4 linked regions of the Homo sapiens genome follow. The protein of the gene in region 1 purifies or fractionates together with the protein of each later gene. This does not show direct contact. Each region holds a gene or a part of one and is shown in the gene's direction. Other genes may lie near its edges.

Region 1 (5,869 bases):
CGCAGTCGGCTGGAGGAGGCAGGCATCAAAGTGCACGACGTCCGGCTGAATGGCTCCGCAGCTGGCCACGTTTTGGTCAAAGACAATGGCTTGGGCTGCAAAGACCTGGACCTAATCTTCCATGTGGCTCTTCCAACAGAGGCAGAATTTCAGCTGGTTAGAGATGTGGTTCTGTGTTCCCTTCTGAACTTCCTGCCAGAGGGTGTGAACAAGCTCAAAATCAGTCCAGTCACTCTGAAGGAGGCATATGTGCAGAAGCTAGTGAAGGTTTGCACGGACACTGACCGCTGGAGCCTGATCTCCCTCTCCAACAAGAACGGGAAGAACGTGGAGCTGAAGTTTGTCGACTCCATTCGGCGTCAGTTTGAGTTCAGTGTGGACTCTTTCCAAATCATCCTGGATTCTTTGCTTTTCTTCTATGACTGTTCCAATAATCCCATCTCTGAGCACTTCCACCCCACCGTGATTGGGGAGAGCATGTACGGGGACTTTGAGGAAGCTTTTGACCATCTGCAGAACAGACTGATCGCCACCAAGAACCCAGAAGAAATCAGAGGCGGGGGACTTCTCAAGTACAGCAACCTTCTTGTGCGGGACTTCAGGCCCACAGACCAGGAAGAAATCAAAACTCTAGAGCGCTACATGTGCTCCAGGTTCTTCATCGACTTCCCGGACATCCTTGAACAGCAGAGGAAGTTGGAGACTTACCTTCAAAACCACTTCGCTGAAGAAGAGAGAAGCAAGTACGACTACCTCATGATCCTTCGCAGGGTGGTGAACGAGAGCACCGTGTGTCTCATGGGGCATGAACGCAGGCAGACTCTGAACCTCATCTCCCTCCTGGCCTTGCGTGTGCTGGCGGAACAAAACATCATCCCCAGTGCCACCAACGTCACCTGTTACTACCAGCCGGCCCCTTACGTCAGTGATGGCAACTTCAGCAACTACTACGTTGCCCATCCTCCAGTCACCTACAGCCAGCCTTACCCTACCTGGCTGCCCTGTAACTAACCTTGAGACCTGAGGGTTTCCACAGTGGGAACCCCAATAGGGCTAGGGCTCTCAGGTAGGGGAGCCTCCTTCTAGATGTAGGCATTTGGCTTTTAAAGGGGAACTCAGCTCTGATTCTGCTTTTTTTTTTTTTTTTCCTTTGTGTACCCATTGGAATGGGTCTACAGTGTATCATGAGCCAACCCTCAAAGGACCCGTATTACAGTGCCACGTTGGAAAACGCTACAGGAAGCATGACCTATCCACATCTTTCCAAGATAGACACTAACATGTCATGTCCCAAACATTAGCACGTGGGGGTTGAGCTCTGTGCAGTAATCGAGATTGGGAGAATTTGGGCAGCGCGTGAGAAGTGCTAAGCTACTTGTTTTCTCACTTGAGCCCGGGTAGGCTGTGTTGGCCCTCACTTGGGATTCTCAGCAGTTACATGAAAGTTGTGCTGATAATCTCTTCTCTTGTACCAATTTTAGTCAGGCAGAAAATGGTAAACATGAGGGTGCTCTTGTGACTTAATTTTTGTTCAAGGGACTAAATTGCTTATGTTTATTCCCTGTCAGCGGAGTGGAGAATGTCATTCATCAATAAACCAAAGCCAATAGCTGGAGAATTGAGATCTGGTTGAAAGTGGTTTATGGTTTACATGCTGTACTATCCTGAGGAATTGCGAGATATTGCTGAGGGGAAAAAAAAATGACCTTTTCTTGAAATGTAACTTGAAAACAAAATAAAATGTGGAACATAATGTTTAATTAGAATTGTGGTGGTGGTAGTGGAAGGGGATAATTGTAAATAGGAAACATGAATGTTCATTTTTTTCTTTAAAGAATTCTTATTAAATGGCTCCCTGCCTTTTTTTTCTTTTTTCCTCATCAGCTCTTTCATGGCTGAATTTTGTTTTATTCTTCCTAAGACTGAGGATTGTGCTGAGTCCAGAGTCATTGTGGTAACTGACATGAGGGTCTTCCCATGTTTTAACTGGAAACCCACTTTGGTCACATTCCAAGTATGACACAGCTGTTCTTCTGGAGTACTTTAGCTATTTTTTGTTTTTGTTCTTTTCGTTTTTTTTTTTTCCAAAAATAGTGACTTCCTTCTCCAGGTGTGTTTGACAGCAACTCAATTCAGGAATTTCGGTAGAACTGAGTGACCTGTGGAACTGCTTTAGAATCTAACCTGCTGTCTTCGTGCTCTGTGTGAAGGGGAAGCTGGGGGGTTAGCATGAAGTCTGGCCTTGTGTGCATTGGAGCTTCCAAGGCACTTTGAAATCATTCCAGTATATTTGGGAAGAATTGAGTGAATGAGAATGCTCTTCCTTATTCTGGTAGATTTGACTTGTTTATAATTCTGCACTTTAGAAGAAAAACAGTGTTAATCTGTAGTTGAAAGAAAGCTTAGTAGATGAGAGAGTTCTAGGCTACTGTGGCTTTTTCCAGTAGATTTAGATGAGATTATGTGTTTTGAAATGTTTTGTGGGATCCCTTAGAAAGCATCACTTCAGGGCAGAGACACTCAATATTGCCAGCCAGCTTGGGTTCTAAAGTGATTTAATCAAATTCATGCTCCTGATCTTTTTTTTCCCCCTTCCTTTGGCTATGAAAACCCAAAGCCCGGAGTGATTGTTTTCTCCTTGCTTTAAGCAGTGAAGTTATCCTAATGCAAAAGAGCTTAGTAGAAAATGAGTGGTTTACCTTTTTTTCTAAAAGTATATTTTCAAGTTTATTCTGGAATGTGATGTCTTGGTCCTCTTAAAAGCAGATCAGCCATGACTGAAACTCAAGGCTTAGCTGGTATCTATGTTGTGCTACATTAGGTGACTAGAAGCCACTTCTTAGTGTAATCAGCTCCTGTTTCCCTGTGAGCCTTAGTTATATTTTAATTCAGTGGCTTTGAGTCAAGGCCGGTTCTAATTGAGGGGACCCAGTGTGCTTCAGTGTTAAGAGTGGGGCAATGAAGAGTGAACCCCAATGAAGAGTGATCCCAACTTTGGAAACTATCTGGTCATTCATGACCTTAAAAAGCTGCCATGGTGGTCAAATGGCATGTGTTTGCACAAAAATGACCGATGTGTTTAACCAAAGCTTTGAAATGTGATGAAGCCACCAACATAAGCACTTGCCTAACAGAAATCAGTATTTCTTCTACTTAGAAGGCTTGGGGCCCAGGGTAATGAGGCACCAGATGAAGATAAGATCTGCATCAAGGAATTAAATTTCCAGTTTGTCCTTGGGGTTCTTTCTGCTTATGTTTTTTCCCCCCCATCTGGTAATAGTCCTCTTCTGAGAATGAAAGGAGGCACAGAAGTTGCGAGAAAGACCCAGTCCCCAGTCTTTGCCACCATTGCACCATGGTTGTCTCGGAGTCCCTTCACCTGACCTTTTTAGTCAGCTCAGATCTTTTTGTAGTTTGAGAATAGACCTATTCAAGAGCTATCAGGGTTAAAAGCTGCACTGACCAAAGCTGTACTTTTAAAACACAACCCCTGGGCTAGTGATGTCTCTACTTGCTCTATGAGCCTTTTGCCAGCCTCAGAATAGGCGAGGTAACCTTGAATTTCAGGGCCCTGGAAACTCTAGCTGAAACCTGCCTTTCCTAATGCTCACACAAGCACCAGGTACCCTGAGCTTATACTGAGTCCAGTGGTTCCTATTTTATGTGTGTGTGTATGTGTGTGTGTTGAGTAACATGAAACTTGGCAGTAGCAGAGAGCACTGAAGTTCACATGCAAGTTCTAATCTAAAGTTAAGCAGTCTCTTATTTGTTTCGGGACTCTGATTTGACTCTTTTTCTGATGCTTTCGGCATGTCTGCAGCCTGTTCTCCTAGCCTGCTGCTTGGAGTCAGGTTGAGCATCAGTGAGATGAAGACAGTACCTTTTCCTCTCACATTGGCAGAATAGCACGCACTAGATGCCTGACCTTGAGCTCTAGTCTCCCCTTTAAATCTTACCTTGGCAGTAACACATTATTCCTCATTCAATAATTTCAATGCTGAAACTGAACTCTATTACTAATGCCTTCCAATCAGAGTTCCTGATGGGGATGCCTGTGGGATGGCCCACACCTGGGGGACCTGGCAGATGGGGTGAGTTGGGTAAGGAAGATGATGCTTAGTTCCTGATAGATGCTACAGATGTAGTTTGGCATTTCAGTTTTTGTCCAGTTTGATTTTCACTGGGGTTTGAGTCACAGCAAGCTGTGTATGAACTTGTGTTTTGTGGTGACACATTAATAATCAAATTGCTAAAACCCTGAATCTGCTTATTCTTCAGCTTCACCTCTGCACTAACCCCTTACCCTTATGGTACGTCAGGATTTTAACTAGTACTGCTTTGTTGACTTTGGGAAATGGTGCCACTCAAAAGCAACTTCCTAACTTGAGGAATAACTCCTTTGTAGTTTACTTTCTGGTACTGGTTGGTGCCTTGTATTGGGATACAGCTATATTCTTAGCTCAAATGTCCTCTTTTTGAGAGCAAAGTAGTTATCCAATGGTGAGACGAGACCCTGACGCTCATAGAGGCCATTCCTTCCTGGGTGTCGGACCAGGGCTCTGTGTCAGGGAAAACCTTCTGGGTGGACTTTGTAAGAATCCAGTTTCCAAGGTTAGATTCACATCCTTAATCTTGCAGAGACTAGAATTTCACAGCTCGCTTTGGAACATATTCCAATTCAACCAGTTAAAATCAGAGGACCAAGTCGTGGGGGAGGGGGGCGGTGTTGAGGAGAGGTATTTTTAAAGATCTGGCAACTTTTCAGGATTATTTGTGGAGAACTCTAAGGTTAAGATCAGGAAATAAAAGACTGTGTGTGTGTGTGTGTGTGCGTGTGTGTGTTCAAGTGCCTAAATCTTGTTTACCTATCACTTTAAAAAAATAATTGAAGTGTAAGCTAAATAAAATGCTTGGAGTTTTGCCTGGGCTAGTGAGAGTTGGTGCAAATTCTTGTGTGTGTTTGCATAGGAAGGTGAGATGACCATCTACTAAAGAGGAAGTAGCTAAATACAGATCTGTGGGTGTTTTTAAAAAAACTCAACCTATCTGGTGTTTTATTTTAATGGATAAAAATGTAATTTTTCTAAGGTAGCAACTTATTTCCAAATTAATATAGATGAAAAATAGATACCAATTAGACTAAATTGAAAGCTTTTTGTTCTATATTTGCATAGCCTTTGAAATATTTCTTAGTGCCTAGGAGGTCTGGGGATTCCTCTTTCGTGGTGGTCACTAACCTTACTTGATGCAGATAAAATCACTTGTCAATGCAAAATGTGTTAGAACTTGATAAAGCTTTGAGTTTGAGAAATAAAGGTATATTTAAAATTTAAATAAAACTTGTCATTTATGCTCATTGATTTGTTTCTTCTCAATGATGAATTTTAGGTTTTAGGAAACATTGAATAGAAATAGGAAGCTGTCAACATCAGCCTTGGATGCTTCTCTGAAGGACAGATGCTTTTTTGAGGGGGGAGGGCTGTGTGGTTACCTTGGAGACCACAAATCCCTTAATATTTGGGCTCTTTTTCAAGGTGCCCAGCTAACTTAAACTAGGCTTCGTTGTTGACCACAGCCTTTCAGCTAATACCCACGGCAGGTGTAGTCTTGCAGTTCGCCTTTGCTGGCACCTTGTTTAATTCAGTCCCTTTAGCTCCTAGCCCACTTCAACAACAACAAAGAAAACAACTTCAGCCATACATGTACAACTACTGTAGTTTCTTCACATTTTTAAAGAAGTATAGAAGTGAACAAGTGATACTTGGAGTGGTTGATAGATGTTTGAAGGGTATAAAGAGATGCTGTAGACTTTGGTTAGCAACCTTCCTCCTCATTCCTTTGATCTAATTCACAACAACCCCTGCCCACC
Region 2 (7,605 bases), on another chromosome or scaffold:
CAGATTTTGGTACTGAAAAGTGGGGTGCTGCCATATTAATATACACAAACATGGAAGTGCCTTTATTAATAGATTGGGGTGATGGGCAGAGGAAGAAGTTTGAGGCACATGATAGACTAAGCCTAGATTGCCTTGAAGAGAAAGTGGGTGGAAATGTGAGTGCCCCATCTCTACAAAAAATAAAAATTAGGTGGGCATGGTGACACACGTGTAGTCTTAGCTACTTGGAAGGCTGAGGCAGGAGGATTACTTGAGCTTAGGAGGCTGCAGTGAGTTATGATCGCACCACTGCACTCCAGCCTGGGTGACAGAGCAAGGCTCTGTCTCTCTCTTTTTTTTTTTTTTTGGAGACAGAGTTTTGCTCTGTCGCCCAGGCTGGAGTACAGTGGCACGATCTCGACTCACTGCAACCTCCACCTCCTGGGTTCAAGCGATTCTCTTGCCTCAGCCTCCTGAGTAGCTGGGCTTACAGAAGCCCATCACCACACCCAGCTAATTTTTTGTATTTTTACTAGAGACAGGGTTTCACCATGTTAGCCGGGCTGGTCTGGAACTCCTGACCTCAGGTGATCTGCCCTCCTTGGCCTCCCAAAGTGCTAGAATTACAGGCATGAGCCACCACACCTGGCCAGAGACCCTGTCCCTTAAACAAACATATCTTTTGGAAGGACACTGTTTAACGTAGTACAACGAGTTATTCCAGTAGTCTAAGTTTGACAGAAGTTGTTCGTTGTAGAAGAACTTACTTGGAAATGAATATCAAACATCTTTGTATTATAAATATAATACCCACAAGTTTTTCTTAAATGTTTTTAATTTTCCACTAGTTTCCTGCTGTGAAAATATTGCTCTAATATTCCTAAAACTAACTTCTACTTCTAGAAAGCCACTCTGGGTCTCATGGACATTTCAGAGGGCTTTATTTTATCAATATTTTAATAATACTTTGCAAGACCTAAGTCTCCACTTACAAGTTTGCCACTAGATGGAGGTATTGACTAGATCTCCTTGACAAATGTAATAAATCCCAGATAAACCACTTTTTGAGTAGCTCTTCATTAATACATCTGTCCAGACACTATTGCCTGCTATGACAGGAATGATAATCCAAAGCCACAAATTCAGATATGCAAAAAATGTTTTTAAATTTTTTCTTTGGCCAGGTGTGGTGGCTCACACCTGTAATCCCAGCACTTTGGGAGACTGAGGGAGGATTGCTTGGGCCCAGGAGTTGGAGACCAGCCTGGGCAACATAGTGAGAACCTGTGTCTACCAAAATACTAGTACTAATAATAATAAATTTTAAAATACAAACAAAAATAATTCTCTCTTAATTGTATTTAATTTTCATTCCAACACTCCATTTCTATTTCACAGAAGAAATGTTAATCTAGTCACTTTCTTTTTTTTTTTTGAGACGGAGTCTCGCTCTGTCACCCAGGCTGTAGTGCAGTGACACGATCTTGGCTCACTGCAAGCTCCGCTTCCTGGGTTCACGCCACTGTCCTACCTCAGCCTCCCAGGTAGCTGGGACTACAGGTGGCCCCCTCCATGCCCAGCTAATTTTTTGTATTTTTAGTAGAGACAGGGTTTCACCGTGTTAGGATGGTCTCGATCTCCTGACCTTGTGATCCGCCTGCCTTGGCCTCCTAAAGTGCTGGGATTACAGGCGTGAGCCACCGCGCCCGGCCAAGTCCTAGATTCTTAAATGAAATTATTAGCTACATTTTTGCCTGGTGCTCATATTGGTGATAAAGCTACTCTTATTTTTTTGAAGTTTAGTTTTAAAGAGCAGCTTGCCTGCTGTAGCTCCAGAAATAAATGTACTATTCTTCTCCCCTCAATGCTCCTAAATGTCTCTGAACTTCTCTAGAAGCTGTCCTGATGAACATAGTGGCACTTTTTCCTGGTAGTGCCTCTGATGGCAGAATTGTCCAATTACAGCTGACTTCTATGTTCCTAGTTAGGTTTCTCCTAGGGCAGGTGTCTCCTAAGACACAACTAGTGTAGTGAGTGCCTAGAAGCCTAGACCTAGCAACCAGACTGCCTAGATTCCAATTGCAACTGTGTCACTAACTACTAGCTTTGTGCCCTTGGACAAACTTCTGGAAAATGTGGATAATGCTACTCCCTAATTCAGTGGATTTTTGGGAGAATTAAAATTAAACTGTAAAAGAACTGGTTCATATTAAGAACTATGTACATAGCTATGTAACCAGTCTTTTTTTTTTTCTTCTTTTTTTGAGACACAGTCTCATTCTGTTGCCCAGGCTGGAGTGCAGTGGTGTGATCTCAGTTCACTGCAACCTCCACCTCCCAGGTTTAAGCAATTCTCCTGCCTCAGCCTCCTGAGTAGCTGGGATCACAGGTGCCCACTACCATGCCCAGCTAATTTTTGTATTTTTAGTAGAGATGGGGTTTTGCTATGTTGGCCAGGCTGCTTTTAACTCCTGACTTCAAATGATCCACTCACCTGGGCCTCCCAAAGTGCTGTGATTACAGGCGTGAGCGACCACGCCCAGCCTAACCAGTCATCTTTTACTGTGTGATACCCTAGTCATCAGCTTTGGCCTCTCACAACTGGTAATCTCTATGAGGCCAGACCTTTAGTTTTCTGAGTCATTTCTTTAACAATTCAACTTTTTCAGTTAGAAATATCTGTTTCTCTCTCTCTCTCTCTCTCTCACACACACACACACACAAAGTTTAAACACTGACATACAATGTAATGACTTCCTTTCAATAATTCTCGAAGCAGCCCAGTATGAAAAATATTTGTCTTTGGCCTCTGGTAGAAGGGAAAGGTGTGAGTGTGACATTCCAAGGAAGGAGGTAGGCCTTGGTGAGCTGTTGAATAGAGAGGTTCTTCGGTGCAGGAATCACAGGGGACTTTAAGGGACAAACCTGGAGTGATGGGGAAATTAAAGACAGGGTGCTATATTAAAAAATTACCCTGGCCGCGTGCAGTGGCTCACGCCTGTAATCCCAGTACTTTGGGAGGCCTAGTGGGGGCGGATTGCGTGAGCTCAGGAGTTTGAGACCAGCCTCTGGGCAACATGGTGAAAACCCGTCTCTACTAAAATACAAAAGATTAGCCAGGCTTGGCAGCGTGCGCCTGTAATCCCAGCTACTCGTGAGGCTGAGGCGAACTCAGGAGGCAGAGGTTGCAGTGAGTCAAGATCGCGCCTGGGTGACAAGTGCGAGACTGTCTCAAAAAAAAAAATTACCCCCAAACAGACCTATTTAGGTGGCTTATGCCTATAATATCTGTGCTTTGGGAGGCCAAGGCCAGAAGATCTCTTAAGGCCAGGAGTTTGAGACCAGCCTGGGCAACATAGCAAGACCCCTTCTCTATATAAAATAAAAATTAAAAAAATTAGCATGGTGGAGCATGCCTGTAGTCCTAGCTACGTAGCTACTTGGGAAGCAGAGACAGGAGGATCCCCTAGCTACTTGGGAGGCAGAGACAGGAGGATCCCCTGAGACCAGGAGTTTGAGGCTGCAGTGAGATATGATTGCACCACTGTACTCCAGACTGGGTGACAAGAGCGAGACCCTATCTTAAAAAAAAAAAATACTCCAAAACATAATGGCCTAAAATAACAACCATTTGTTTTCTCTCGTTTCTGTGGACCATGAATTCAGACAGCATGGTGGGTATGGCTTGTCTCTGCTCCATGATGTCTGGGGTCTCAGCTGGAGTGGTTGAAGGTTGGGGACTGGAATCACCTGAGGCCTTTTTACCCATATTTGTATCTGGACTGAGCCTGGAATTTGATTGCTTCAAAATATTTTCACGGCTGGGTGTGATGGCTCACGCCTGTAATCCCAGCACTTTGAGAGGCTGAGTCTGGCCGTCTGCTTGAGCCCAGGAGTCAGCAACCAGCCTAGGCAACATAGGGAGACCTAGTCTCTACAAAAAAAAAAAAATACAACAATTTGCTGGGCGTGGTCGCCTGCGCCTGTAATCCCAGCACTTTGGGAGGCCGAGGAGGGAGGCTCACTTGAGTCCAGGAGTTCAAGACCAGTCTGGCCAACATGGTGAAACCCCGTCTCCACAAAAAATACAAAAATTATCTGGTTGTGGAGGCTTTCGCCTGTAGTCTCAGCTACTGGGATGGCTGGGGAGGGAGGATCGCTTGAGCCCTGATGGTCGAGATTACAGTGAGCTGTGGTCACGTCACTGCACTCCAGCTTGGGTGACAGAGTGAGACCTTGTCTCAAAAAAAAAAAAAAAAATCCTAAAATATTTTCATGAGTTTGTGCTGGGTAGGCCTAAGGGAAACATGCTCAGTAAATCGAAAAATCTCGGATTACACATAAACCACCGGCCCCGGCAGGTTAGACTTGGTGGACACGGGAGCCAGCAGCGTGTCAGGTGCTCGTTGACCCCAGCGCCAGTGTCTCCATCCACGTCCTTCACTCGTCAACCTTTCCTGGCCCAGGCTGCGGTGTCCCAGCGCCAGGCTCCGCCCCGCCCTTGGCTGCCGGCCAATCGCCGCCGACTGAGAGGCGACTATTGGAGGAAGCGGGATGGGCGGTGCCCGCGCCGGGCCGCTAGGGGTGCGGGGTTGGGGAGGAGGCCGCTAGTCTACGCCTGTGGAGCCGATACTCAGCCCTCTGCGACCATGGCTGTGCTGGCGGCACTTCTGCGCAGCGGCGCCCGCAGCCGCAGCCCCCTGCTCCGGAGGCTGGTGCAGGTGAGCGGGGTTCGTCCCCACAGCACTCAGACCCGGGATGCGAGGAGTCCCCGCCTCGGAAGCTTCCAGCCCGCGGCCGTTGCGGCTCCCGCGGCCCGGGCGCGCGGCTTAGGCCCCAGGACAGTCACGCGACGGGTTCTGGTCCAAAAACCGCCTAAGTGCTCCGATAACACCCAGGGACTCGCCTATTTTTACAGCGCGTTTCTACTTCCAAGGTCTCGGCGTAATCATCTTAATGAGCGTTACTGGTGTGTCAAACAAGGGCACGTGTCTGGGCGGGCAGGACCGCCAGGATTGGCGCTGGCCCGGCCTGAGCGGTGGGATCGGGGAGAGTCTCTTTGCAGGCCTGTGCAGCTGCTCCCGAGATTTTCTTTAAAACATATTTGTGTGCGTTATTGTCAGGAGAGGTTCCTTTTCTTTTTTAATACAATAGATAATCATTGGGCATACAAGGGGAGAGGGCACCATGTGATCATAACAGATGTTTTTTGGAGCAGCCTGAAATTTATCAGGGAAAACAAATGACTACTCAGATAATACAATAAATTATACTTGACATATGAGCAAAGCTCACATACTGAGGGCGTTCCAAGGGCTGTCGCTCTTCTGACCGTTGTGTTTAGGGAACACAGCAGGGGCAGAGTCTCAAAGAATTTATTCTCCACATGCGTAAGCAAGGGAGTACGCACCACAGATTGTCAGGCAAAGCCTCAGGAATAGGTAGAGACCTTCAGGGTGTGGTTGGTGAAGCTTGAGTTTTCTAGGTCGATGGGGGCAATAAGCTTGGAGATCCAGTTATGTTGTGAGTATGGACTTGACCCTAGTTAAGTAGGGATTGTTGATATGTTTGTTTTTGTTGCAATGGTAGGTCACTCTAGTTCTTACGTCTGGGCGTAGAATAACATTACTTGCACAAGGGTGCTGGCGGTAGGAGCTTTGCAAGAGATTGTAAAAGAACCAGTCTAGGACTTGACAATTAGGGAGTGAGGGTGCGAAGCCAAGGGAAAAGAAAGAGTCTAAAATTGATCCTGGGTGACTGAGATAATAGAAAAGTCACAAGGCGTAGGTTTCCAGGGAAGATGAGTTTTTAGCCTATTTGTTAGTCTCATGGGATGAGTGAAGAAATCACAAGAAAGTAATTAGGTTATCTTGGGTTTCAGTCAGTATTGACTAGGTGACATAGGTGAACTAGGTACTCTAGAGATGTAAAAAAAAAAAGTTCAGAACCTTCTTAATTTATGGTTTAATTAAGATCTTACAATCAGGTTGGTTGAGGTGGCTTATGCCAGTAATCCCAGCACTTTGGGAGGCCGGGGTGGGTAGATCATTTGAGGTCAAGAGTTCAAGACCAGCCTGGCCAACGTGGTGAAGCCCCACCTCTATTAAAAATACACACACACACAAAAATTAGCTGGGTGTGGTGGCAGGCGCCTGTAATCCCAGCTACTTGGGAGGCTGAGGCAGGAGAATCGCTTGAACCCGGGAGGAGGGGAAGGTTGCAGTGAGCTGAGATCATGCCACTGCACTCCAGCCTGGGCAACAGAGTGAGACTCCGTCTTAAAAAAAAAGATCTTAAAATGAAACACAAATACTCCTCATGAAAAAAATAAGCCTGTACATGCTGTAATGTATGATATGTGACATTCATATTACTGAACTCTAGGAAGCAGTTGTATTGGACACTTGAATTAAATGGTCATTTACTGAACTATAAACAGGATTTCCAGTTTTCTGTGCTATTTTGTAGAATGGAATTTGACCTCTCATTACATTGGCTCTTTTCCCTTTGCTTACCAGGTCTCTTTTATGGTCAACAAATCTTTATGGACTTTATTGGAGCACATTGCCTTTCTAGCTCTAATCACTTTTCTCTCTCTGGTCAAAGGAGTGGTCTTTACTCATTACCTCCCATGTATTCTGCATCTATTTCTCCTTAACTCTCTGCAGTTAAATTTCTTTGCCACTGAAGCTGAAAAATACAGTGATTTCCTTTTTCTTTGTTTTTTAATTATTTTTTTAAATCTATTTTAATTTTAGTTTTTGTAGACACGGGGTCTGGTTCTGTTGGCCAGGCTGGTCTTGAACTCCTGGCCTGCCAAAGTGCTGGGATTACAGGTGTGAGCCATTGTGCTCAGCCCAAGTTTTTTCTTCTTGACCTTTATCCTATATTTGACACTATTGACCACTCCCTTCTTGAAACTGTTTTGTGTTTTGATCCAGTTTTATTCAGCTTCTTTTAATACTCAGACTTAAAAAAAAATTCCTGTATTGTGCCAGTCTTGGGCTTATTTGCTCCCAGATTCATTTATCTTCCCTCCCCTAGTCTGTCTGCATTACTGTAGGCTGACCAATATCAGCTGGCTTCTGGCTGGGTGTAGCCACTGGAAGGCACCAGTGGAAGATTGGAAGATAGGAGGAAGGGAGAAGCCAGAATAATTTGTCTGTCTGTCTGTATCTGGCAGTGTCTGTCTCTCTTGTGGTTCCCGCTTCTGCTGGGATCCTGACCCCTTGGCTTTGGTAACCTTGCTTCTTCCCTTTGACCTAACAGCCTGTATGCTACTTCCTTCCTGTTGCTAATTTCTTTCTTTCTTTTTTATTTTTTGAGATCAAGTTTCGCTCTTGTTGCCCAGGCTGGAGTGCAGTGGCACGATCTTGGCTTACTGCAACCTTGGCCTCCCGGGTTCAAGCAGTTCTCCTGCCTCAGCCTCCTGAGTAGCTGGGATTACAGGCATGTGCCACCACACCCGCTACTTTTTGTATTTTTAGTAGGGACGGGCTTTCACCATGTTGGTCAGGATGGGCTCGAACTCCTGACCAGCTCACCAGGTGATCCACCTCTGATGATCTGCCCACCACAGCCTCCTAAAGTGATTACAGGTGTGAGCCACCACACCTGGCCCCCTTC
Region 3 (7,488 bases), on another chromosome or scaffold:
TTTCAATGAATCCAATGAAAATGAATTCATTTTCAATCAATCCAATGGATTTCAATGAATCCATGTTGGTGTGTAGCTATGTTCTATTCATTTTCAATATATTTTTACATTTTCCTATTGATGGCCATATGGGTAATTTCTAGAGCTGTGCTCTTAGAAACAGTGCTTATGAACATCTTGTACATCTCTTGATTTAAATGGGTATGTAAAGGAATGGAATTGCTACATTACGTTTCCAGATATAATGATCACTCTGTGTTATTAGCCTCATTGTATTAATAAATGAAGATTTATAGAGACCAGGAAACTTGTTCAAGGTCACACAGCTAGGTAGTAAAGTTAAGACCAATAAATTCTGCTCCTTTCACTTGAAAAAAACTCAAGGTTAGGTAGCTCATACTTCTGGAAACATGTAATTATCAAACAGAATCCTGATGAATAATGTTTTATCTTGTTTAACTAAAGTTAAAAGAGGAGGTCCTAGCAAATTATTCCACTCAATTCTACCACTTGACCACTCAAAGCAACTTGACTACGTAATGATCATGATTAAAACTTTTATCCTATTAAAATATCCTGTATTTCACCATTCCTGAAAATTCCAGTCAAATGTTATAGTTTAAAATGTGTACAAATTGTGTATGTATAAAATTGTAAGACATAGTAATAAAGTGGTTCTCATTGAGACTACAGTTTTAAATTAAATTACAAGCACTTTTATTTTTGCCATAACTAAATTTGGAATTACTACGTTTAAGATTCACTAAAGTGAATGTAATAATTATTTTTAAAATACTACATATTCATTTTAAGAAATTACTTGAGAATACTTTCAAAAATGTCCTGCATGTCACTTAAGCCAACAAATAATTTCCAAGATACCTAGCATTACACTTAAATTTTAAAAAGGGTAAAAAGCCAAAGTTTTTTTTTTCAGCTAAGGTCAACTATTTAGCTCTGCAATCTTTCCTTTAAAAAATATTTGTAATAATTTGGTCTCTGATTTATTTCACAAGTCTTAACCTTGCTTTATAAATAATCCTATTTTCAATCACACTCCATTATCTAACATGGCTGTTTACTAAATACATGATCCTATGGTAAAGTACATATTTCTAAAAATGTAGCTACTTAGACAGACAGCAATGTAAAGGCATCTTTACATTATAGTACTCTCTAAATATTACATTGTTACTTTCAACAAAAAGGAACCAGATTATAACAAAATTGTTATAAAATAGCTTAAAAGTGTAATAGAACTTCATTAAAGAAAACATTAAGATGAATGAGTTTTAACTAGATCTATAACAATTTTATATATGCTAGAGATAAAATTAATATGAGGTTAAATAATTTTCTTTTTTTTTTTTTTTTTTTGAGACAGGATCTCCCTTTGTCGCCCAGGCTGGGGTGCAGTGATGCCAGTGCAACTTCTGCTTACTGGGCTCAAGCAACCCTCCCACCTCAGCCTCTTGAGGAGCTGGGACTACAGGTGCACAACACCACACTCAGCTAATTTTTTAAAAATTTTTTGTAGAGACAAGGTCTCAGTATATTGCCCAGGCTGGTCTCAAACTCTTCGACTCAAGCAGTCCTCCGGCCTTAGCCTCTCAAAGTGCTGAGATTACAAGTGTGAGCCACCACGCCTAGCTGTGGTTAAATAATTGTATACTATAAAAAAGCATAAGATCTTGTGAGTTCCAAAGTGCCTTGGGTATCAAGAGCCAACATTCTATTTCAGAGATTTGAAACTTAATGATCCTTTAATATCTTTGCTGGATGTTGTTAGAATGGTATTTCAAACATTTTCTACAATTTGAATTAAATATTACCTTACTAAATAACGCGAGGCTGGGCAAAAAAAATGTTAAGCATAACTCCAAATATAGCATAACAGTTTAATGCTCTGTTTGTTGCCTTAACAAAAAATGAATGTCTGCAACACATTCACAAACCACCTGGAGATTCAAACTCACAGTGAAAGTGCAATGACATATTGTGCTACTTGACATTAGCTATTACCAAAGACGGTTCAAAAGGAAGAGAACACAGACAATCTTATTAGTATAATTGGAAATGTGCTGATATACCCACCTTACCAAACATCTTCTCTTGCAGTGTATTATATTACCTGAGAAAAGTAACTTACAATCAGTGCTAATATGCTCCTTAACCTGATTTACAAGGGCAACTAGCAATAAACAGAACAAGGCCCGTGAACTACCACACAGGTGACTTCAATTCTGTATATCTGGACTGGATGGGAATACGGGGGCTTACATGTTTGTGGCCTTCTTGGAGTATGGGAATGTCCTGTCCTGCTATAGGACTGCAGTGAGAATTCTGGTTATAAAAAGTCTCCCTTGTAAAATTCACTGTAAATCGAGGACAAAAATCATGAGATTGTTTTGTTATACTTTAAGTTCTAGGGTACATGTGCACAACGTGCAAGTTTGTTACATATGTACGTATACATGCCATGTTGGTGTACTGCACCCATTAACTCGTCATTTACATTAGGTAAAATCATGATATTTTTAAGGACAACAACATGGAAAAATCTTTCTGTTAGCAGCTAGTAGAAGAATTCATTTAGGAGGATAATGGAAGAAATTTTTCGTAACTGCTCAGAGTAAAAAGTAAAACTCAGAGAACCTAGGTTTGAGAATAATGCACACCTACTAATTCAGGACTAGACACATAAATTTGAGAGTTTTTGACATTAAAAGTAGCATTTGAAGTGATGCAACTTATGAATTAGCTCACTGAGGGATTTAGTATAGACAGAGAATACAGGCACCCCAATGTTAAGAGATCACAACTAAAAAAAATTTAGAAACTCCGCAGAACTGAGAACCAGTAACAAAAGAGGAAAACCAGGAAAGTATGTTGTCTGAGAGCCAAATGAATAAAGAGATACAAGGAGAGTCATTCAGGTATGATATTAATAAATGCTAAAAGTAAAGCATTACATTTCTTTCCAAAAATAGCAAATCCTCCAAACTGAAATAGAGAAAAATTGAAAGATATTACTTGGCATTCATTTATCAGTGACAGAGAAAAAACGGAAGTTCTAACAATGTTATCTAATAGAGATGTTTTATTCATTTTCATTACGTATATGCTGTGTATGCTACTCCCGAGCATCATATCTTCCTTTTAACATCCACAAGAAACAAGCTTTCAAAAAGCACAGCAATTCTCTTGGCAGCATTAATTTTAAAGAGAACCTCTTAAGTTGTTTTACCAGCTGAGACTGACTGACTAAACAACCAGTGTCTCCCCTTCAGTCGCCAGTCTTTCCTTAGAAATGCCTGTTTGGCATAACTTTAAGACTCAAGATGGTTTAAGGCGCATCCTGTTTCTTCCAAAAGGGAATGGACAAAACTCAACATTCACGGAGGGCTTAGAGCAAATTAGAACCGTATACTGTGACCTCCTGGAAGGGAGAGGCTCACCTCCTACAAAGTAAATGCTCAATAAATATTTTTGATATAACTCTGGAAGAGCTCCATTTGGGGTCGGGGGTGCACCTACTCCAGGGCACCACCCCCTCCAAAATAGCTGCATTCCCACAGCCCTCATACTCCGCTCAGAAAAGGGACCGGCGAGCTTGCAGGCATCCGCACAGCGGATAAAAGCAAAGCGGGACGGCGCACCAACCGCATTCCGGATCCTAAGGTTAAAAGAAAACCCCTTGCCCTCGGGCCAGGGCTCACCTGTCTCGGGAGTGGGGAAGAAGCGCGACTCCCGGCCGCTTTGGAGTAGGCGTCCCAGCAAAACTCTCGCCTCATCACCAGACACTACCCCGGGCAGAAGGTTCCTAGGCTAGGTCCTCGGACCCGAGAGGGAGCGACACGCTCGCTTGGTCTCTTGGGTCTCCAGGACGCCGCCGCCGCCGCCACAGTTTCCTCAGGTGCTACAAAGCAGCCAGGGTGTGCGTGCGCTCCCGCCTCGTCGCTTAGCAACCTGAGAAGCTGTCCGGTCGTCCCAACTTATCAATTCCCCCGCCCCTCCAGAGTGTCAATCGTTTTTTAAAAGATTTTGTTTCCGGGTCGATCCAGCTTTACGCAGCGGAAGGTCTCTTTACCTCCCACGTTTACCCTCATGGGAGGATGCAGTCTCAGTCACGCGCGTGGGGGTGATGTCGCTAAGGGGTGATTCTCCCCTCCCTAGAGTTACACACGCTATCTCTCCCGCCAATTGCCGGGCTCCATCAGGCAGGTCCTTTCCTCCTGAGCCCAAACCATCCGTTTGTTGTCGTCCTCCAATCACAGGGGCTCATCCTCAGGGACTACTTTGCAATCGGCGCAGAGCGCAGTGAGAAGAGCTTGAAAAAAACCTCTGGTATCGGGAAGTGTAGTTCAACACTTGAAGGAAATGCTTTGGAGATTGCGCCACAACCAGGGCAGCGTAAACTACAGTTCCCAGAGAGCGCCGCGTCGGGAGCGGAGCCTTTTCTCGCTAACACCGCTCGCCCTCTCCGAGTCAGTTCCGCGGTAGAGGTGACCTGACTCTCTGAGGCTCATTTTGCAGTTGTTGAAATTGTCCCCGCAGTTTTCAATCATGGTGAGTGTGGGCCCCGGGTTCCTGCCCACCTCTGGCCCTCGCGCCCTTGAGTGGGGTTTCTTGCACTTTAGGGACTTTTGGGAGGCAGCTGTGCAAGGCACTGTCCTTCGCGCCCTTTGGCAAGCTCGGACTCATCTTCTGGGGATTGCCGCAGTGACCCAGTAATGGGAAGGGATTGATTTCCACCTTGCGGGGTATGGGGCGCTCTTAGGAGGACTCTGGAGAAGTAGTTGTCCTGGGAGAGGAGCGATCTTAATCCTGCTGCATGACGGGAGGACAAAATGCGACGCTGCAGCTATTTTCCAAAGGACGTTACGGTGTTTGATAAGGACGATAAGGTTTGCGATGGGAGGGAAAGGTTGGGTCCTAACCCCTTTTTCTCCTCATTTGCCCACAGTGTTTATAACGGCTTTTGTCACAGGGACCTTGAAAGCAAAAAGCTGGAAAGGTAGTATTTACCAGGTGCTCCAGATTACGATCTGCGTTTGCAGCAGACGTGTTTCCGCCATATCTAATTTCTCAAAATGTTATTTGGAACCCGTTCATTGACCTTTTTTGTAATGCCAGGATATATTGAAGTGACAGCATCACTAACTAAATAACTACTGCAAATATTCTTTATTGAACTGTATATTGTGAATTCCAGAAGCACCTCTCTTAAATGTAACAGAGTAACCATTTTGTCATGGAAGACCTGGGTAACCTGCATCTCCATCGCTTGTCTCTGCTGAAAGAGAGGGGGAGGGGGAGAGTTGGTGAAGGAACTCTGGCGTAGGAATAATCTGCGTACTGCTTGAAGGTGACATTTGTCATCAAACTCAGAGAAATCGCTTCATACTATCAATACAATGGCTTGTATTTATAGTTGCGACTGTTTTTCCTACTTTATCTGCAAAATACTAAAACGGCTGGAGAATGTGGAGAAATGTTTGAATGAATTGGAAATTTCCCAGAACCTGAAAAGACACGTTTTCAAGGCAAGGGCATTACTCTCTCTGCCTGTCTAACGGGGCCAGTGGAGACAGCTACTAATTTCCAGTAGGTGTTAAACCTAGGTTTCCTAAATGTTTTGTCACATAATTAGTCATTTAAATTATGGTTTCGGTAGTTTCTGTCCTAATAACCTTAGCTAGAAAGCAGAGGTACTTATTATCTGATAACCTTGGACTTTTTGCTTTTAGAACTGAATGGGATCTTTTAAAGGTCATCTTGACGAATCTCCCCACTTCAGATCTTAAAATGGAGTTTATCGAGACCCAAAGAGAATGTGATTTGCTCCAAGAGTCTCACACTCTTGCCATTTTTCTATATTGTGTCTTACACTTACCAAGTCTTTCTGAATTTTTATTTTTATAGGGACCACCGCAGTGAGGTCTCGCAGCGGGGGAGAGACAGTGTACTCAACTCCCTGAAAACTTATTTTTACTAGCTGAGATTCCGGATGAAGTTACCAGTTCATACTGCATATACAAACTCAAATATGTTATCAGCATGTAGATTACTTGATAGCTTTATTCCTTGCCATTCAAAATACTGGAATTGTAGAATTAAAAGGGAATTTGGAGATTATATTATCTACTCTTATAATGTAGTCTGGTGAGGTCAGATAATTTTCCCAAGGTCACAGAGATTTTGGGCCCCAGATTCTTAGCTAGTTTCCCTAGCAAGGCCCCACCGTTGGAAGGTCACTGGGGTGCCAGATAACACAGAGACAGAACATGAGGAAGAATTTGTCTGGCAGTTTGCTGGAACTGACAGCAAACTCACACATGACTCAATTTCCCTGCCCCCTCAGGAGGGTGTGTGAATGGACAGAGTTAGAAAAGAGCCTTCTTCTGTAAGCTCATTCAAAGCGGAGGATTCTTTGCTTGTTGTCTGTAGGGAGTGACAGCAAAATAAACTGTATGAAGGAATCTAAATGGTACTGCTTAGTTTTTTGTGTTATAGAAATACATGTAATTTAGAAATATATATAAATTTGAAAGTGAAAAAGAAATATGTGGCTCTGTCTGTGGAATAACAGACACTTAAATTCAATCTTTATAGCTGAGAAGTTAGCACAGAGCCTGCATCTGCAGGAAAGTCATTGGTGCCCTGCTAAGAGCAAAGACGTTCCTTTTTTGGACCTTGGCACACTGCCCAGATATCTGAGCAAAGAATAGTAACCTATGTTCACACTATAACATTGTGAAAGTCAGCAGGACTCTCCCACCCTCCTGCTTTTCAACTGCAATGTTGCAGAAGAGCAGAAAGAACCATACATGGACTTTTCTTTCTCTGTTTCATCTTCAGACATTCAAACACTAAGCCTCATACTACCATTAATAAGATGGAATTACCTACCTGGGAAAGTAATTTCCCCAAAGACACAGAAGAAAACTGCTGAGGTGGAATTAACTGTTCATTAGGTGGCCACAACCCCTTCACTAAGGACTGTGATACTGTGAACATGTTTTTAAGTAGCTACTAAAATTGACTGCATTATTCTAACCATATAGGTGACCTTATGGGAAGTTAAACTTAATAGATAGTGATCTTCACTCTCTTCAGCCCCCCTTTTCTTATCCTAGTTTGCTGTTCATTGAAGTAGTATCTGTTCATACTTTATACCCTAACCTTCCTTCATTCAACAAATACTTTTTGTGGAAATGCAAATCCATATCAAAGACAGACTGTTCTCAAGAGCGCTTCATGGCCTAATACAGAGCAACAGAAATGTAAATAGAAAACCACAGGCTATTAAAGTCTTTAGAGGAAAATTCTGTGATGATATTTATAAATACTCACTACGTACTGTTCTTAGTGCTTTGTGTGTTAACTCTTTTAATCCTTAAAACTACTCTGTTTGTTAGGTAATTGCTATTATTATCTCCATTTTACTATGGGGAAATAATACAGAAAGGTTAAGTAACTTGTCCT
Region 4 (7,027 bases), on another chromosome or scaffold:
GCTCCCAATCAATCCTTGTAAAAACTGTTGAGTGTGGGATTGTTATCCAGATTATACAGACAGAACTGGGACTCAGAAAGGTTTCTGAGCTTGCCTGAGATTAATGTTGGAACTGAGGTTCAAATCCCATTCTAATTTCAAAGCCCCATGTTCTTTTCATTTCATAATGTGTTCAAGCACTACAGAGATAAGCAGAAGTATATAAGCTCTTAATTAACTGGCGTGCTTAAGAAATGGAGCATTTTTTTTTCTATCAAGTGAATATTAGATTATTAGCAAAATTCCCTCAGAGAAGAGCACCTCTTGGGATGTGGACATTGATAACTTCTAAAACTCTTTTGGGCATATGCAGTACTGTTGGTCTCTCACCCATTTAGGCATTTTTGGAATTATAACACTTTACTCACATGGATATATTTACTGTGGTACTCAGCCTTTTCATTTAGTGCCAGCATACTTCAAAAGGTACCAAATAAAAATACAAAGTTAACTTCTCATGAGATTCTGCAAAAGGCAATAGCAATAAGGCTGAAATTTGTCTTAGCTAGGCTTTCTAACACAAAACTCTGGAATTTGTTTTTTGTGACACATATATGGATGAAATTAATACAGGGTATTAATTTCCTCATTGAATGTTATTTTCAGTGAAGGGAGAAAGTAGACTGCTAAAAAATGGAAAGGTCAAGAAGCAAGTGTGTAATTTGGCTGTCTTGCAGGAAAACTTGAACTTGGCACTGAACTCTGCTTCTGCCATTGGGTGTCATGTTGTGAACATTGGTGCAGAAGATTTGAGGGCTGGGAAACCTCATCTGGTTTTGGGACTGCTTTGGCAGATCATTAAGATCGGTTTGTTCGCTGACATTGAATTAAGCAGGAATGAAGGTAATGGAACACAGTCATTCTGGCAGTTGTTTATTGGTTATTTTTTTCTAGTCATGCAGACTTTCGTGCTCTCACTTAATGGAGGTGATTAAATGGTGGTAACTAGAATGAACATAAGGTAATGCTATAGAGTTATTCAGGAAAATAGCCTAATTACATGACTCTCTTCTTTACTAGTAATTCACATTTGTCTGGCACTTTACAATTCATTTTGCAATAATGACACAAAAGCACAGAGAGATTAAGGAGCTTTCCTGAAGTCCTCAAACTTGATTATCTATTTTTTTCTGTTCTGCCTACACAACTTCTACCCCGTTGCCACCCTCAGCTCCACCATTTTGCACCATCTTCTTTTTTGGAGACAGGGTCTCACTCTGTCACCCAGGCTGGAGCGCAGTGGCACAATCAGCCTGGCTAACATGGTGAAACCCCGTTTCTACTAAAAATACAAAAAATTAGCCAGGCGAGGTGGCACGTGCCTGTAGTCCCAGCTTCTCCGGAGGCTGAGGCAGGAGAATTGCTTGAACCCGGAAGGCGGAGGTTGCAGTGAGCTGAGATTGTGCCATTGCACTCCAGCCTGGGCGAAAGAGTGAGACTCTGTCTCAAAAAAAAAAAAAAAAAAAGAAAGAAAGAAAAAAAAAGAGAGAAAATGTAAGATTGCAACCGGGTGTGTTGGACCATGCCTGTAATCCCAGCACTTTGGGAGGCCGAGACAGGTGGATCACTTGAGGCCAGGAGTTGGAGACCACCCTGGCTAACATGGCGGAACCCCGTCTCTACAAACAATAGAAAAGTTACCTGGGCGTGGTGGCATGTGCCTGTAGTCCCAGCTAGTCAGGAGGCTGAGGCAGGAGAATCGCTTGAACCTGGGAGGCAGAGGTTGCAGCGAGCCGAGATCATGGAGGCAGAGGTTGCAGTGAGCCGAGATCACGCCACTGCACTCCAGCCTGGTCAATAGTGCGAGACTCTCTCAAAAGAAAGAAAAGAAAAAGAAAATATAAGGATGAATTATATTTCTGTTAAAATAGGATTGAGCCTTCAAGAGTTAATTGATTAATTTTACTTAAATACAAATACCACCGTGTTTCTAGACTACTTTAATCAAAAGGTTAAGTAAAAGATTCCCAAATTGTAAACATCTTTCCCCCAAATCCCTGACTTTTTTTTTTTTTTTTTTTGAGACGGAGTCTCGCTCTGTTGCCCAGGCTGGAGTGCAGTGGTGCGATCTTAGCTCACTGCAAGCTCCACCTCCCGGGTTCACGCCATTCTCCTGCCTCAGCCTCCCAAGTAGCTGGGACTACAGGCGCCCGCCACCACGCCCGGCTAATTTTTTGAATTTTTAGTAGAGATGGGGTTTCAGCGTGTTAGCCAGGATGGTCTTGATCTCCTGACCTCGTGATCCGCCCGCCTCGGCCTCCCAAAGTGCTGGGATTACAGGCGTGAGCCACTGCACCCAGACCCAAATCCTTGACTTTAGAAGTGTTAAATAAGAACAACTTATACAAACATATGACATAATGTGAAGCTTGCATTAAGCTTAAAGGCCATAACCTCATTTGGTATTTGAAATGTGAAGAATAACAGAGAAAAGAATAAATTGTAGTATTATGTTATTATATCTGTTATATATTTATCTTTTTTAGTAGATTATGAGTATCTTGAAACTAGGAACTATGTCATAGTAGTTTTTGCACCTCTATTACTTAACAGTGTCAAAAGACTGAATGAACTTGGCATGACCATTATTGTGTCATATAATAACTGTGGGATTTTTTTTTTTTTCTTCTAGCCTTGGCTGCTTTACTCCGAGATGGTGAGACTTTGGAGGAACTTATGAAATTGTCTCCAGAAGAGCTTCTGCTTAGATGGGCAAACTTTCATTTGGAAAACTCGGGCTGGCAAAAAATTAACAACTTTAGTGCTGACATCAAGGTAACTGTTGAAAGAATCACAACATTTTGGGGGGATATAATAGCTGGAAGATTTCATCCCAGCTTAACAGAGAGAAAATCCTAACACTGTATCACCAAGCCTTGTTGTCTCTTGGCCCTGAAGGTAGATTTTAGAAGAGTAATAGAGCCAGATAAGGTACATTAGCACCTATGTTTTATTTTGTGGGAAAAGGTAAAAATATTATGCTAATTTATCATATTATAATGCTAATTTGTTATATCCTGCCTATTGGTAAACATGGAGTATTAAAGAATAGGACATGACTATTCTATTCTTAACTGCCTTTCCCAAGCCTCAGTGTACCTGTTAGTAAACACACCTAGAAGAGATAGGAAGGGCCTCATGATTTCCTCTTCACCTTTTTTATTTGGCTTCTCTCCTGTCATTTTATCCTACCTTTAGTTGTGAGTTCCTCGAGGATAGCAATGAGCTCTTATTTATGTCTGTGTATCCTACCTCAGCCCCTGCTCCAGGGCCCTCCTACTAAAGCCAACTTAAAACATAGTATGTGGCATATACAAGTCCCTCATATTTCTTGCATTGAATTGAATTTTTTTTTCACTCACTGTTTATCATGAGCAGTGGGGGAAAACTAACAATGGAGGAAGACATTTATTACATGTTGCCTTTGGCTTCTCATGCAGAGGGCCAACATTACCATAGCAAACATTGTGTGGAGTTCTCCTTAACTGCCTCAATTCTGTGTGACATCCAGATGTTGGTACACAGGGAATAAACTTAAGGATCTTCATCAGATGTCACTGACCAGCAAGGCTGTGAAAACAATACTATGTGATGATATGATTTTGTTCAGTGATGAGAGGAAGCAGTGAGTTGCCTGTACTACTGATTTCATCCATGAAAATTAAGAGTAGCCCCAAAATTATAAGACCAACTGACCCTGCCCTCTCTTTTAATTACACAATATGTTTGGCCAGGTTTGTTGTTGTTGCTGTTGTTGTTGTGACAGGGTCTCACTTCGTCACCCAGGCTGGAGTGCAGTGCTGCTAACATGGCTCACTGCAGCCTTTACCTCCCAAGCTCAAGCAATCTTCCCACTTCAGCCTCCCAAGTAGCTGGGACTACAGGTGCACACCACCAAGCCCGATTGATTTTTTTTTCTTTTTCTGAGATGGAGTCTCCCTCTGTCACTCAGGCTGGAGTGCAGTGGCACTATCTCGGCTCACTGCAACCTCCGCCTCCCAGGTTCAAGAGATTCTTCTGCCTCAGCCTCCTGAGTAGCTGGAATTACAGGCATCCACCACCACGCCTGGTTAATTTTTGTATTTTTAGGAGAGACAGGGTTTCACCATCTTGGTCAGACTGGTCTCAAACTCCTGACCTCATGATCTGCCCACCTCGGCTTCCCAAAGTGCTGGGATTACAGGCATGAGCCACTGTGCCCGGCCTGATTTTTTTATTATTTGTAGAGATGGGGTCTCACTGTGTTGCCCAGGCTGGACTCAAGCTCCTGGGCTCAAGTGATCCTCCCACCTCGGCCTCCTAAAATGCTGGGATTACAGGCATGAGCCATGGTACCTGGCCAGCCAGGTATATTTTGCTTCATGCACTAGATGCGTTCCTGAAAATCAGCAAGCCAACCATAAATGGATTTTATGTAGTGGGATATATTTTAAATGTAAAGAGAAAATCTTATTTTTGTAAATGAAGCCTGCTTTGAATTTTTTTATTTTTTATTTTTTAAATTATTTTTTGTTTATTTTTTTTTTTGAGATGGAGTCTTGCTCTGTCGCCCAGGCTGGAGTGCAGTGGCGCCATCTCGGCTCACTGCAAGCTCCACCTCCCAGGTTCACGCCATTCTCCTGCCTCAGCCTCCTGAGTAGCTAGGACTACAGGCACCCGCCACCATGCCTGGCTAATTTTTTTTGTATTTTTAGTAGACATGGGGTTTCACCGTGTTAGCCAGGATGGTCTCGATCTCCTGACCTCGTGATCTGCCTACCTCGGCCTCCCAAAGTGCTGGGATTACAGGCATGAGTCACCGCCCCCGGCCATCAATATTTTTAAAAAGGAAATAATTGTTTGGTAATGTGAAAACTAACTTCCAGTTTATCTGTATTCAAGTTCAAATTTTCACCTGTAAAGCCCTTTTCAGGGTAGTAAATACAGATTTTGCTGGGTCTGCTCTTTACTTGTTCTTCTCAAGAGCATAGGTTTATTATAAATTGTTTGTGTAGCTTTAGCAAGTAATTGGAAGTGAAAGCACTTTCGCAATTGTAGTACACTATTCCTTAAGAGGTAAATGCTATGCCCCCAAATGATAGAATCGGAGTTGGCATTTTATGAATTGCTCTGAAATAGCTTTCAATTACCTGATTTTCCCCATTCTTAGAATCATTTATGGCACCAAGTTTCAAACTCACCTGGGTAACTGGTTTAAAAGGCACCTTTCTGGGCAGCTCCCAGACATTTATATTTGGTAGCTCAGGAATTGGATTCAGTAATTCACATATTGAGTAACTTCCTCAGGGGTTAGTATGCACATAGACTATGAGAAACACTCCTTCATAGCCTGTCTGGACCTTCAAAGCCCAGTAACAGGAAACTATTAATATCGTAGCTGGAAGGTGGTCTTCACATATGGCAGGATTAAGGAATCTTGACTCAAATTCCGGTCCTCTAGCATTCCAAAGATGCAGGAATTTACTTGACACGTGTGTAAAGGTTCTTAATAAGCGTTTGTGCAAGTACAATAGTTTTCAAGCTGTGTTTTGTGGAGTTGTCCACACAACCTGAATTCATGTTGACTGTGAGCCAACCCCATTGTTTTATGTATTGGGATTCTAAGAAAACAACATTCAAGTGATTTAGTCCAGGGGTTTAAAACGAAAAGAGACCTTTGTTTTGTTAAGTACATTCAGATCATAGAGGGTTCAGTGTTATTTTAGCAACTAAAATGTTTACCATTTAATGCTTTTGTCATTTAAATTTACAATTAAATACATCTTTAACATAGCTAATCTCTTCTTCGTAGGTTGTGGTATATGCATTGTGCTTTGTAATGATATAACCTGTTTATTTTCTCTTTCTTCTATGCTTCCTGGATTTCTGCTCTCCTACTTTTTTAAATGCTTGTTTTGTCTGTCAAGCTTATTGACTTCAGTAATTCAGTGAAGGTACAGAACTGGTTATATGTTTATTAGCATTATTGTATTGATGACTTTAATAATTGCGAAGTCATGTCAAAATCCAGTTCATCCATATGCAAGACAGATATAAGGCAGATAGATGGACTTTTCTGGGGAAAACACCTGTTAAATTAAAAGGCAGAGATTTGTGCCATTTATTCTCAAAAAATCCAATGCAAATAGCCTTCCAAACATGGGACAATAGGATACATTCATTCCTTGTAACTGTGATCTCACTGACATTTTCAATTCTTTGTAGGATTCCAAAGCCTATTTCCATCTTCTCAATCAAATCGCACCAAAAGGACAAAAGGAAGGTGAACCACGGATAGATATTAACATGTCAGGTTTCAATGTAAGTATAAGTGCTCTTTTGAATTCTACAATCTTGCAAAATTATTGTCAATTTCTTATAAGTACAATAATTTTTATAATCGTATGAAGTAGAGTTGGCAATTTTAAGCATTATTTTAAAATGTATTACTGTACATGTAATTCAGAGGCCAGAAAACTAGCTTTGATTTATTTTGATTGTTAGTGAATTCCATCGTTGTTGTGGTATTGATTTATATGGATGGCATAAAATATTCAAAACAAGTATGGGGAAATAAGTAACTAGAAGCTAACCTTTTCCAAGTATTTGGATTACAACCACAGTAATAGATTTAGTGACTATATGAAAACCTTTTCCAAGTATTTGGATTATAACCACAGTAATAGATTTAGTGACTATATATTCATATTCCTGTGTTGAGAGTAATGTGATTATGTTTTACAAACTCCCAATCTATGAAATCTAATTTAGGGAATTACTCTCAGAGACCATGTTCCCTGGTTATGTCACTAATTTGTTTAGTGACATTGGACAAGTTCCTTCTCAAAATTGGATTTCACTTTGTTCATCCATAAAGTAAGGAGTTAGAGTGAACTATTTAGTCCCAAGTTTCTAGGAATCTGTGGTTTTTGTACCCATTAGATATGGAATGCATGCTACTAATTAACAAAATCCACATATCTAGCCTATTATGCCATAGGATGGAGTG

Evidence for each region.
Region 2: the proteins of TENT5C (region 1) and ACAT1 purify together in Homo sapiens (affinity purification with mass spectrometry, with the first as the bait; 2 studies listed by BioGRID). This does not show direct contact.
Region 3: the proteins of TENT5C (region 1) and MDH1 purify together in Homo sapiens (affinity purification with mass spectrometry, with the first as the bait; 2 studies listed by BioGRID). This does not show direct contact.
Region 4: the proteins of TENT5C (region 1) and PLS3 purify together in Homo sapiens (affinity purification with mass spectrometry, with the first as the bait; 2 studies listed by BioGRID). This does not show direct contact.

What each region holds. Positions count from the first base shown.
Region 1 is NC_000001.11:117,623,034-117,628,902, forward strand, and holds the end of TENT5C (terminal nucleotidyltransferase 5C), read left to right. Parts: coding exon 1-1,011; 3' UTR 1,012-5,356; downstream 5,357-5,869. UniProt on the Homo sapiens protein: Catalyzes the transfer of one adenosine molecule from an ATP to an mRNA poly(A) tail bearing a 3'-OH terminal group and enhances mRNA stability and gene expression.
Region 2 is NC_000011.10:108,116,979-108,124,583, forward strand, and holds the start of ACAT1 (acetyl-CoA acetyltransferase, mitochondrial isoform b precursor), read left to right. Parts: upstream 1-4,588; 5' UTR 4,589-4,628; coding exon 4,629-4,700; intron 4,701-4,817; exon of another isoform or gene 4,818-4,948; intron 4,949-7,605. UniProt on the Homo sapiens protein: This is one of the enzymes that catalyzes the last step of the mitochondrial beta-oxidation pathway, an aerobic process breaking down fatty acids into acetyl-CoA.
Region 3 is NC_000002.12:63,584,478-63,591,965, forward strand, and holds the start of MDH1 (malate dehydrogenase, cytoplasmic), read left to right. Parts: upstream 1-4,485; 5' UTR 4,486-4,566; coding exon 4,567-4,569; intron 4,570-4,668; exon of another isoform or gene 4,669-4,850; coding exon of another isoform or gene 4,851-4,907; intron 4,908-7,488. Other genes in the region: WDPCP (WD repeat-containing and planar cell polarity effector protein fritz homolog), read right to left, coding at 3,720-3,794. UniProt on the Homo sapiens protein: Catalyzes the reduction of aromatic alpha-keto acids in the presence of NADH. Plays essential roles in the malate-aspartate shuttle and the tricarboxylic acid cycle, important in mitochondrial NADH supply for oxidative phosphorylation.
Region 4 is NC_000023.11:115,634,165-115,641,191, forward strand, and holds part of PLS3 (plastin-3), read left to right. Parts: intron 1-716; coding exon 717-882; intron 883-2,671; coding exon 2,672-2,814; intron 2,815-5,945; coding exon of another isoform or gene 5,946-5,972; intron 5,973-6,243; coding exon 6,244-6,339; intron 6,340-7,027. UniProt on the Homo sapiens protein: Actin-bundling protein.